Homo sapiens: one gene and its partner. The protein of the gene in region 2 purifies or fractionates together with the protein of the main gene of each other region. This does not show direct contact. Each region holds a gene or a part of one and is shown on either strand. Other genes may lie near its edges.

Region 1 (7,299 bases), on a different chromosome or scaffold from region 2:
TTCTTGTCCTTCTCTGCTATGTTTTTAATAGAGCAGAAGCCAAAAAACTCTGCACTGTTTACTTCCTTATTTGTCCAACAAATCATCATCAATGAGATCAGAAGCAAAGAGAACAACCCTGAAAGGAATGTTTATTAACTAACAGTGTTCCAGGCCAGTTTAGAAAGCCCATAGTATTCACAGTACAAAAACTATGATGTGGCTGTAAGTTTCAAGAATTGAGCAACTACTAATTTCTCTAAACTTGGTTCCTTTCTAGAGCCAAAGGATAAGTTAAGTCTCTGTAGATATCAAAACTGCACAAGATTTTTATCAGCTAATCTTAACCAACTGAGTACGTCACTAAAGAGACCTTTAAAATATAACTGTTTTTAGCTTATTAACTGTAGAGTTGCCTGTGGCTGTTGTTTTGCTTTCCCTTCACAAAATGGTATCAAATGCCTTACTGATAAATATCTGAAACAAACAAAAAAGCCCTAAAATTACCTATGCCTCCCTCATCTTATGAGGTTAAAAAAAACCCACAGAATTCACTCCTAGAAATGGCATATATATATATATATATATATTTTTTTTTTATTGGTAGCATTTTAAAGTCTGTTAAGAGATTAGTTATTTGTTTGTTTATACTCCAAAATATACTCAATTTCAAACATACCTATCATTTATTTGCAAGTATCATCATCAATCAAGTAAGCAATAACAATGCACAAGGCTTAGAAGCAGATTTGTCATATTTCAAAAAGTGGAGCTCAAAGCAATTCATTTTAAGTTAACTTTAAATTTATAAACTCAAGGCAGTACAAGTCTGGTTTTTTTTTAGCTACCCAATATCTGATAAATATGAATACCTAATAATAGACGATAATAACAGTGATAAAATTAAAATGAGAGCAAACCACTGAATAATCTATTATTTCTTATTTCTTCCTATAAAGGATGCACCAAATTCAATTCCACAAGTTTTATATTGTGCAACTATTCTGTTGTTTGTCACTATGAAAGTTACTGAGGAAGATTAAAAAAAAAAGTCATACTATAAGCAACAACAGAGTCCCTTTTTAGTTTAAATAACAAAACACATCAGACCTTAAAAATCCAAATGAGTGTTACCCTCCAAAGCCAATACCCTGGGAGATAATACAGATGTTCAACTATTCACATTTCTTTCAAAGCCAGACTACAGGTCACACAAGAAAATCAGCAATTATATAGCATTCACACCACAAGGAAGTTGTTTTCAATACAAATCTCCTTGTTCCTTATATATAATTGTTTACTAATAACATTTTTTATTATCTAGCCCCCCTTCTCCTCAAAACTACACTGTTAATGAATATTGGCTACCAATATCAAAATATTATTTCTGATACAGTTTAATGCTAGTTAATCATTTGTAAGTGCATGGTTTCCCAAGATGACAACTTAAATTTATATGTGAGTTCAAGTACATTTCAATTTTTTAAGTCTCATTACATCATGGATCTATTTTACATGAAAGAAGTCCCTAATCCAAAGAGATAACAATCTTTAACCGAGTAAAAAACCAAGAAAAAAAATTACAGTAATAACTGGCATAAGCCTATATTATTTTTGAGAAAAAGTTTCCCGTATGTACTTGAATTTACCCTAATAACCAATCTAAGTTTCATACCATTTACAGCCTTTTCAATCAACTCTTCGCAAGCATCAAAATCACCCTTCAACACCAGCTTGTCATGAATATCTGTTAACATGGGATGTTCCAGTGCAATCTTGGTTTTCTTTTGCAGTGACTCAAAAGCTTCTGTATAGTTGTGTTGTCTGAAGTGTTTTAGGCAAAGGCGAATAGCTTCCTGTTCACGGTACTACTAGAACACAGAGTAAGTATGGAAAGAAGAGATTTGGTTAGATGATACTGTAGGAAACAATAACAACAGTAAAAATAACTAATCTACACTGAGCATTTATTAACACTATGTGCCAAGCAGTTTACTAACCTGATTCATTAGGTATCATTATTTGGCTCTTTTAACTAGCAAAACTAAAGCTTGGCCTGTTCCAATAACTTGCTCAAGGTCACAAAATATGTAGCCAAAAGTTATTAAACCAAACCTAATTCCAGAGCCTCAACTTTGAAGAAAGGGAGAACATCTATTTCTTAAACTCCACTTAATACTGTAAAAATTATAACTCCATAGCATCTATTAATCCCATTACAATGCAGGTACTGAGAGCACAAAAGAACATTAAATAATCCACATAAATTATATTATGCTATTTTTGGTTTTTAAAAATAAACTATTACTTGAATGACAAGTATCAAGTATACAGATATTTCAAATTTACAAACACATTTTATGACTCAAAAATCATCAAAAAGAGACATTTAATCTTTTTTTTTTTCTTTCTTTTTTTGAGACAGGGTCTTGCTCTGTCTCCCAGGCTGGACTGTAGCGGCATAATCTCAGCTCACTGCAACCTCCGCCTCCCAGGTTCAAGCAATTCTGCCTCAGCCTCCTAAGTAGCTGAGCTTACAGGCACGCGCTACCACGCCCAGCTAATTTTTGTATTTTTAGTAGAGTCGGGGTTTCACCATGTTGGTCAGGATGGTCTTGAACTCCTGACCTCAGGCAATCTGCCCACTTTGGTCTCCCAAAGTGCTGGGATTACAGGTGTGAGCCACTGCGCCCGGCCCAATTTAATTGTTTTCTAAGCCTGAACTACCTCATCTATTAAGCAGCTATAAAGTAGACATCTCAATTAACTGGAATCCAAAAAGCAGGCACTTAATTTATTAAAATTTTCCCCTAATAGGATAGATGCCAAAAATACAATCTTATAAAAAGGATTTTTTTAAAAAAATCTCAACTTCAGGAATATGTTCTGGGACTACCTCAAACTTCCTAAGTATACCACTATTCAAACAAACAGATGACATGGAAGCCTGCATGATAATCAAACAACAATGATTTACTTATAGGCATGACCCTTTAATAAGGCAAGAAAATAATGTGTTTAGGAAGATGTATAAGATTTGAAACAAATCAGTTGATAGCTGACTTAACTAATAAAAGGTCATTAAACACCTAATCCTTACACGTTATAATTAACTATAATTAATTAACAACTTAATTATAATTAGTTAACTATAATTAACTTACTCTTGGCCTCTAAAAAAGACTTATCATAACTACCATGTAACAATATATATTACAGTTATATTAAACAGCAGTATTTTTTAACCCTGTTGACTACTTTAGGAGTCTAAATCACATCCACATCTTAAATTTTCCATTAGGCTGCAAAACTATCCCACTAAAAACTATGTTTTAAGTATTTATATGAATACAAGTGAAAAAACAAAATTCAGAGTCAAATGGGTATAATAACATAAAAGCAGACTGTGGAGCCAAACTGCCTGAATTCATATACTGGCTCAAACACTTTACAATTGTGTGATCCTAGGCAAACTATTTAATCTCTCTGTTCTTCATTTCTTCATCTATAAACTAATGGGGATAATAAGTGCACCTGTCTCATAGAGTGATAATGACTAAGTGAGTTATCAGGATTCCTTAAAAGCTGGCAGACTGGAAGTGCTTAATAAAATGTTAGCTAACTGTTGTTATTATTATTTTGAATATTTTAAATTATTCTCAATGAAGATAAGAGATTGACATATTTCTCCTTTTATAGGCATTAAAGTCAGGATTTAAAACACAGTCCTACCTTGCTATACCAGTTGAGACAAGGTTGTACTATATCAGGATCATCAATGCCACTAAGTTCAACATACCAGATGCTAAAGTTAAAGCTGGGTCCCCAGGACAAGAGTGGAACTTTAAGGAGAAAAAACAAAAAGAAGAAGAAAAATATTAACACAGTTCAAATAAAACTTTAGCAAAGTAAAAGCACTATTCAACCTTATAAGGATTCATTCAACGAATTTTCTGGGCATCTTTTATATGACTAGCATGGTGCTAAGGCTACAACAGTAAAACGAAACAGATGACCCATGCCACCATAAGATTTCCTTAGTTAATAAAAACACTGTAAGATAAATTAAAAATGTGCACATGTCTACCCCCAAATAAATGCCACCAGAATTAGATGATTTAACAGGTAAATTTTATCAAATGTACAAGCAGCAAAAAATTACTTTAGAATTTAGTCTACATCAGAACACTGAAAGAGACTGAAATTATTTATCAGTGGCACAACCCTGAAATCCAAATCAGAAGAAAAAAGACTTAAGGCCAATCACAGCTATGAATACATATTTAAATACAAATTAAAAGGAGAAAAGTTGCAAAAAATTCTATCAGATTTTCATTGTAACCAAACAGATCTCATTCCAGGAATGGAAAGATGATGGTTCAATAAATAATAGGAGCTATATTAATATAATCTACCACGTTAACAAAATAAAAGAAAAAACACATTTGATGACTTAAATACATTATTATTTTTAAACCCTCAATATATAAGCAATATAAGGCAATAAAAAATTTCCTTAGATTTTTTTAAAAAGCATCAAAAACCTTAAAAATTAAACCTACTGGGAAAATACTAAATATTCCCACTCAAGTCAGAACAAGACAAAGATGTCCAATATCTCTACTATTTGTCACTAATTAGAGGTCTCAACCAGTGCAATAAGGAAACAAACAAACAAATTAAGAAAAACGAATTGTAATTTAAAGATGACCTGTCTACCTAAAAAAATTCAAGAGAGCCAGGAGCAGTAGCTCAAGCCTGTAATCCCAGCACTTTGGGAGGCCGTGGCAAGAGGATCACTTGAGGCCAGGAATTCAAAACCAGCCTGGCAAACACAGTGAAACTCTGTCTCCACTAAAAATAGAAAAAATAGCCAGTCATGGTGGCGTGCGCCTATAATCCCAGCTACTTGGGAGGCTGTGGCAAGAGAATCACTTGAACCCAGGAGGTGGAGGTTGCAGTGAGCTGCCATGACACCACTGTACTCCAGCCTGGGCGACAGAATAAGACTGTGTCTCAGTGGAAAAAAATATATATATATATTCAATTGAAAAACTTTTTATTTGTAAACAAGGTAAACACACAAAAATCAACTTTTCCTATACCTACAATAACCAATTAGAAAATATACCTCAAAAAAGTCCTATTTATAATGGCAAAAAGCTGAAAATACTTCAGAATAAACTTAAAATACGCAATATTTATAAGAAAATATAAAATTTTAGTGAATAATTGAATAAATGAAAGAACATACTATGTTCCTATATAGGAAAACTCAATATTGTAAATGTGTAGCTCTCTCCAATTAATTATAAATTTAACATCATGTCAATCAAAATCCCAATGGTCTTTCCAGAGGTCCCACGTAGTCAAAACTACTTTTTTTTTTAATAACAACACTAGTTATTTTTCAAAACAACTATTTTTCAAAATAACATAATAAACACTTTTCTAGCCTTTTAATAATAGCAACATTGCACTAATGGTACAAAAGCAATGGTGTGTAAAACTGCTAGCACCTTGGTACCAAACTAATGGCACCAAAAAGTACTATTAGTGCTCAGTAAGTACAAGGTGCACTGTATGCCTCACCACCATACACTGGCAGTAAAATAAAATAAAATAAAATAAAATAAAATAAAATAAAATAAAATAAAAATAATTTTTACCAATGGCACAGAAAAATTAATTTTATTAAATTCCCATCAAGTACACATCTGTCTAGTATCCTGTGTGACAAAATGAGATTTGCATATAAAGCATTTTTGTTGTGTACCAAACCACAATGGTTATCTCAAGGAAAGGACCTGTACAATTATTTAAGTTGTGAGTTTAAAAATCAATTTATTTTTCATGGAATGCCATTTTATTCTTGAAAGAAAAACAGACAACCTATGATTATTCAGATTTGGGTATTTGCCAAACATTTACATGTTATTTCAAGGAAAATACTTAACGATATTTGCTGTCAAGGATAAAAACCAAGCTTTCAAGAGAAAAATTAGAATTTTGGAAGATAAGTACCCACCACTGTGAGCTTAACTGATTCCCAACACTTAGATTTTTTTAAATGAGATTAGATGTGATATTAATAAATGTGATTTTTAAAATATTACATAATGAAGTGTTTCAACATTTGGGAGATCTGTGTAATTCAGTGAACCATATTTTCTAAATAACCAATGAATGTTACAAAATCACACCTGGGTAAAAAGTCCAAGACAGACCACTGGGTAAAAAGTCCAAGATAGACCAGTGAATTTTAATGTAACAACAGATTCACTGATGCAGTTTCAGAATCAATAATGCAACTATCTTTAAGAAACTAACATTTGTAGAGTTTTGATGAAGCATCAAAATAGAATATCCAGAATAGCTGATACCAGGCGTAATGATTTCCAATATCCGACTGAATAAGGAAAATGTATGGGGTATGATACTTTTATATATTTTTGTCATCTAAAACAGGGGTCCCAAACCCCCAGGCCCAAACCTGTACAGGTCCCTGGCCTGTTAGGAACCCAGACGCATGGCAGGAGGTGCGCAGTGTGTTAAGGGAGCATTACTGCCTGGGCTCTGCCTCCTGTCAGATCAGCGTTGGCATTAGATTCTCAAAGGACTGCAAACTCTATCATGAACTGCAAATACAAGGGATCTAAGTTGTGCACTCCTTATGAGAATCTAATGCTTGATGATCTGAGATGGAAAAGTTTCATCCCAAAACCATCTCTCCACCATACCCTGCCCCAACTTCTGGGTCCACAGAAAAACTGTCTTCCACAAAACTGGTCGCTGGTGTCAAAAAGGTTGGGGACCACTGATATAAAGGAAGCTGTGTGAATAAAAACACAGGCAGTAGCAACCAGCCATAAGGATGTATGAAGGAATGCTGGGATATTTAATATGCCTTTCTGTTTATGTATGTAAACAACACACATTTCAAAAAGTTTTTTTTTAACAACAAATATTAAATTATCTTTATTGTTTTAGTGTTTCTTTATGTAGCAGTGTCATTTAAAAGTTTATCTACTAAATCACATAGCAATAACCATCTAGTAGTATAAGAGTCAGAATAAAATAATGATTCTAAACTAAAAGCACCAAGAATATAGTCTATATATGTCACCAGACATAAAATATTAGAGATTTCCAGGTCCAAGTCTCATTAAGAATTCATTTATTGGTCCTGGTGCAGTGGCTCATGTCTGTAATCCCAACACTTTGGGAGGCAGAAGCAAGAGGATCATTTGAGCCCAGGAGTTCAAGACCAGCCTGGAAATATAGTGAGACCCTATCTCTACAAAAAAAAATTAAAAATCA
Region 2 (5,274 bases):
AATGGTATACTGATTACTATCTTATACTAAAACTATATACTATGTATCAATATACTAGACTGTATTAGTAAATGACTGAGTCAAGAGAAGATTTAAAATAATATACCTAATGGGATAACTGGACTACTTACTGGGAGTCACCTGGAGCTACTACTCAAAATGCAGTTTGGGTAGGTCGGGGTCAGGCACCCTGGAAGAGTGCTTATTGCAGTGTCATGAGTCTCCTTCTAAGTTTCCTTCTGTTCCCCTCTTCTCCTGCCATAAACCCGATCCTTAAAGCTACAGCTATTAACTCAAGACTCAGAAGAAATATTCTTAGTTGCCCATATGATAAATATTGAAACAGGACTCTGTAAGGATGGTCTAGTTATAGCCACAGGCATTAGACAGTGGCTTCCTGTGACATATCAGAGGGTGACTTTAATTGTCCTCCAAAATGTGATTAGGGTCACCATTTAGGTGATTTGACTGCCATTTTTTTGCACATTAAAGAAGGAAAACCAGGCAGAAGAACCTTATAAACGTTTTTAGTAAATGTTTATTTTTTGTATTCCTTAAAAACAAAACAAAAATCACAAGTTTAATACTAGTCCTTTGAAATACTGTACACCAATCAAAGCCACCTTACTCATGCAGCAAGTTGGTCTATGTTCTCTTGACTTCTGTTTGCCAGATGCTCCTCAATAATTTCTGCAAACAGATTCCTCTTCAACAGATTATATGCAAGAGGTAAAAGCTGGCCAGCAACTTTATGAAAATACTGAAAAATAAAAATATAACATTAAGCAGAGAATATAGCAGATATCCTAATAAGTAGCAGAAAATATATCAACAAAGCACTTGTTTAACAAAGGCTACTTCCAAAATCATTTTAGCTACACCCTCAGGTGGTTAGTGAACATAATTTAAGGACAGGCGCCTGGCATTCTAAGAGGCAGTCTTGTTGCTCTAGATGACTAATGGCATATCTTGAAAATTAAGAAAACCAAATTAAATCGAGCTTCCTTATTCCCTTAGGTTTTATCAACTTTTTCTCACCCCAAACAATGCCCACAAATACTTTTTATTCTCTCCAGTGTATTCCCAGGCAAAAGTTTAAGCTTTATTTTCCTCAATTCTGTAAGAATAGCTATGCTGAAAGTTTTCAGATCGTATTGCCTTTATCCTCAAATTCCTTCTCTCCCCCATCCCCAACACGTACCGCCTCCCAATCCCTGTTAAGAGTCACTGCCTTAGGCTTATCAAAAGATTTGAGATTACTGCTATTATCTACATATACCACCGTTTTGCTGATCATAATAAACATTTAGCCCTTAACATGCGGTAAGCACTGTGCTAAACCTTTTTATAACTCATACATGTTATTTCATTCTCACAACAAGCAAGTTTGCTATTCACTGGTTCACATCTTATGGCTCTACTTATTTATGGCTAGGGCCTCTCTAGCAGGTCAAGTACTATTTGGATTGGTCAATGACTGTCATTCTGGCTGTTAAGCATTTTGATTATTTTTACTGATAACTATCTATGAGGTGGGCAAAGAAAAGTAGTATAATATGGTTTATAGCAGGGTTCTCAAAATGTACACCCCCGACCAGGAGCATCAACTTCACTTGGCAACTTGTTGGAAATGCAAATTCTCAGGACCCACCCTAGAACTCAATCAAACTTGGGGAGGGTGGGAAGACTGCCAGTGAGCGTTTGGACAAGCCTTCCCATTGACGCTGATGCACGCTAAAGCTGGAGAGCTACTGGTTTGGTCTTGCTTTTCCCAGTGTGGTCTGTAGAGCAGCAGCATGACCGTCACCTGGGAGCATGACAGATATGCAGTCTCAGATCTCATGCTGGACCTACCGATAGAGTGCATTTTAACAATGTCTGCAGGTGAGTCATATGCATTTTAGTTTGGGAATTACTGCACTGATTTAGGCACTGATTCTGGAGCCAGACTGCTTGTGTGAACCTGGGCAAGATGCTTTGCCTCTCTGTGACTTGGTTACAAAGTAGGTTAAATGAGAATTAAATGATCTGCGTGTGGGTATGCACTCGTGCACATGTGCACACATATCTTACAGGTAAAGAAACAGATGCAAAGGTGTTGGAAAGCTTGCCCGATCTTACACACTGGGAAGATGTGATTTACAACCAGTTTGGCCCCAGAAACAGGTCATATCCGCTACACCTTATTGCCTCTTTGATCTTCAGGCAACTATGGTCGAGTAAGCACTGGTTTAGCTATTAAGTAAAATTTTCTTATTTAATGAGCAATTAGTTAACGGTAAAACAGCATCTCTTATAAAGCTTAAATAATTTAAAGTGCATTTTTCATCTAAGAATTTAAGCACAATAACAAATACCCCCACCACAATGGAAACGAAATGGAGCCTAAGGTGTGTGCACACACCCCCATACCTAGCCCCAAACGTACACACACGGCAAGAAGGCATGTCCCTATAATGTGTCTAATGAGTAAATTCACTTTAATGTAAGCCTGAATGCAAATAATCTTCACCTTTGAGTGAATGCAAATATTCACCTTTGCCAGAATATAAGATGAGTTTAAAACATTTTTAGGACATCTACGTTAAAAAAAATCACTTCAAAAACTTCATTTTGAAATACAAGCTGAATCCCTGTCTTACCTCTGCTGGAATTTGGGGGTATAAATGTGCACGTATTCATGTGTGGATGTATGTCGCGGGGAGAGGAGGGAGGTGTGGCAGTGGGTAGAAGGTGGAGGGTTTTTTTACTCACATGTGAGCCATAGCAAAAGAGATCCATTCCCAATTCAAGCCCCATGCCATAATCACATTCATCATTAGCAAACTGCACAAAAGTCATCATTTCCTGAATGGGAGCAAAAGCTTTTAGTCTCTCCTCATCACTTGCAGCCTCAACTATTGTCTTGCAAATTCTCTTGAGGTCAGCTGAAAGAAATCAATAATATAAAAGATTATCTACATAGTTAGAAAATGAATCAGTCTTCAAAAGTAAGAAGATTATAAAGAGGGTTTTTCCTCCTAAGACTTTGTACTAATACAACTTGTGCCACCTTGGGTAGTAGTCTTCAGCACTCTAATTTAGAATGGCAATTTGGTAACTTTTCTACTTAGGATTCAAGCTTAAAAACAGGTTAACAAGTATTTCTTTATTAACGACTATTTCACAGGATTTAGTTACAGTCACGATTTTTTTTTTTTTTTTTTTTTTTAGACGGAGTCTTGCTCTGTCACCAGGCTGGAAAGCAGTGGTGCGATCTCAGCTCACTGCAACCTCTGCCTCCCAGGTTCAAGCAATTCTCCTGCCCCAGCCTCCCAAGTAGCTGGCACTACAGGCACATGCCACCACGCCCAGCTAATATTTGTATTTTTAGTAGAGACGGGATTTCACCATGTTGGCCAGGATGGTCTTGATCTCTTGACCTCATGATCTGCCTGCCTCGGCCTCCCAAAGTGCTGGGATTACAGGCGTGAGCCACTGGGCCCAGATACAGTCATGATTTTTTTAAAAAGTCTATTCCATGGTGGTCATCATGCATTTACATAAGCTTTAAAGATTCAGCAGACTAGTCCAGGAGTTGGCAAACTTTGGGCAAACCTGGCTCACCCTGTGTTTAACTGCCCTCAAACTAAGTTTTTTTCATTTTTAAATGGTTGAAAAATCAAACAAGAATGTGATAGATTATGTAGCCCACAAAGTGTAAAACATTTACTATCTGGCTGTACATGGAAAGTCTGCCAGCCTGGTTCATGCACTATATAGTTGCCTCTGTATCTGAGGGTTCTACATCCTTCGATTAAACCAAGTGCGGATTGAAATACTCAGGAAAAAAATAAAACATACGGATTTTAAAAATACAGTATAACAACTATTTACATAGTGTCTACTTTATATTAGGTATTCTAAGTAATCTAGAAATGATTTGAAATATACAGGAGGATGTGCGTAAGTTATGCAAATTCTACACCAACTTATTTGAGGGACTTGAGCATCAGATTCTGGGTATCCTTCGAGGTCCTGATACTAAGACAACTGGATTAAAAAATAATCCAAGTAGGCAAAATTTATTCTTTTTGCCCTGTCCTACCTTGTTTGCTAAAAAAAATTACTGACTTGTGACTTGTGGTGAACTAAACCCAGAAAAAGACAACAATGTAAGAGACAAGAAATCACTGCAGAATTAAACCTTTAACTAAAACCTTCACCAAATTGGGAGAAGAGTAGGCATGGCAAGCATGCGTTTGAGGTAAGAATAGAGAGAAAATGTCTAATATTTACCTAAAGAATATATTTTTACAAATTAACATTTCAATTTTGGCTTTCAAGATTTTTTTCATTCTTTCTGGATGTTAATGTACATCCGATTTCAGGACGCAAATGAGATGGAAGTATGAACAATATCTATTTAGACTTCCTTTTGACAAATTGTATGTCCTTTTTAACAAACAGTACTTCTTTGAGAATGAAAAGAATGGATATTATTCAAACAAACCAACAAAACATTTCCAAACAGGTGGCTGCCATACTGGGGGAGAGGAAGACTGGTTAAAACATTAACAATTATACTCAAGAATGATAGGTGATGTTAAATTCTATGTATGAGGCACAACGTTCTGATGAGACTAACGAAAAATATCAGGTATGATATTACCAGGGACGGGCTGAGCGCAGTGGCTCACGCCTGTAATCCTAGTGGGAGGATTTGGGAGGCTGAGGCAGGAGGACTGCTTGAACCCAGGAATTGGAGACCAGCCTGGGCAATGTGGTGAGACCCTGTCTCTACAAAAAATAGAGAAATTAGCTGGACTTGGTGGTGGACACCTGTAGTCCCAGCTACTTGGGAGGCTGAGGTGGGAGGATCACCCAGTGCAGGAGGTGCAGGCTGCAGTGAGCCGTGGTCATGCCACTGCACTCCAGCCTGGGTGACAGAGTAAGACCCTGTCTCAAAAAAAAAAAAAAAAAAATTACCAAGGATGGTATTAAAAATATACTATATACTAGTGCTTTTAACCCCAGTCTATGAATAACATTTGGTTCAGTCTTGACGACAGTACAGAATACATGCTGTTACCCCAGTCACAAAATGTGTTGTTCCCTTTCCCACTTTTGGTGGACCAGTATCGCATTGAACGAATGGCAAACTGCACCACCTACGTTTCTAACTATCTATAAACAGTAGTGACATATTTGTTGGTTTGAAACCTTTTACAAATTAAATTATTTTACATGAGCTTCATGACATTCCTTTCTTCAGAAAAATCAGTGCTGATCATT

The links.
Region 1: the proteins of HPF1 (region 2) and MKLN1 purify together in Homo sapiens (affinity purification with mass spectrometry; 2 studies listed by BioGRID and IntAct, with this or other methods). This does not show direct contact.

What each region holds. Positions count from the first base shown.
Region 1 is NC_000007.14:131,393,789-131,401,087, reverse strand, and holds part of MKLN1 (muskelin), read right to left. Parts: intron 3,822-7,299; coding exon 3,712-3,821; intron 1,851-3,711; exon of another isoform or gene 1,848-1,850; coding exon 1,655-1,847; intron 1-1,654. UniProt on the Homo sapiens protein: Component of the CTLH E3 ubiquitin-protein ligase complex that selectively accepts ubiquitin from UBE2H and mediates ubiquitination and subsequent proteasomal degradation of the transcription factor HBP1.
Region 2 is NC_000004.12:169,728,950-169,734,223, forward strand, and holds the end of HPF1 (histone PARylation factor 1), read right to left. Parts: intron 2,928-5,274; coding exon 2,755-2,927; intron 761-2,754; coding exon 629-760; 3' UTR 521-628; downstream 1-520. UniProt on the Homo sapiens protein: Cofactor for serine ADP-ribosylation that confers serine specificity on PARP1 and PARP2 and plays a key role in DNA damage response.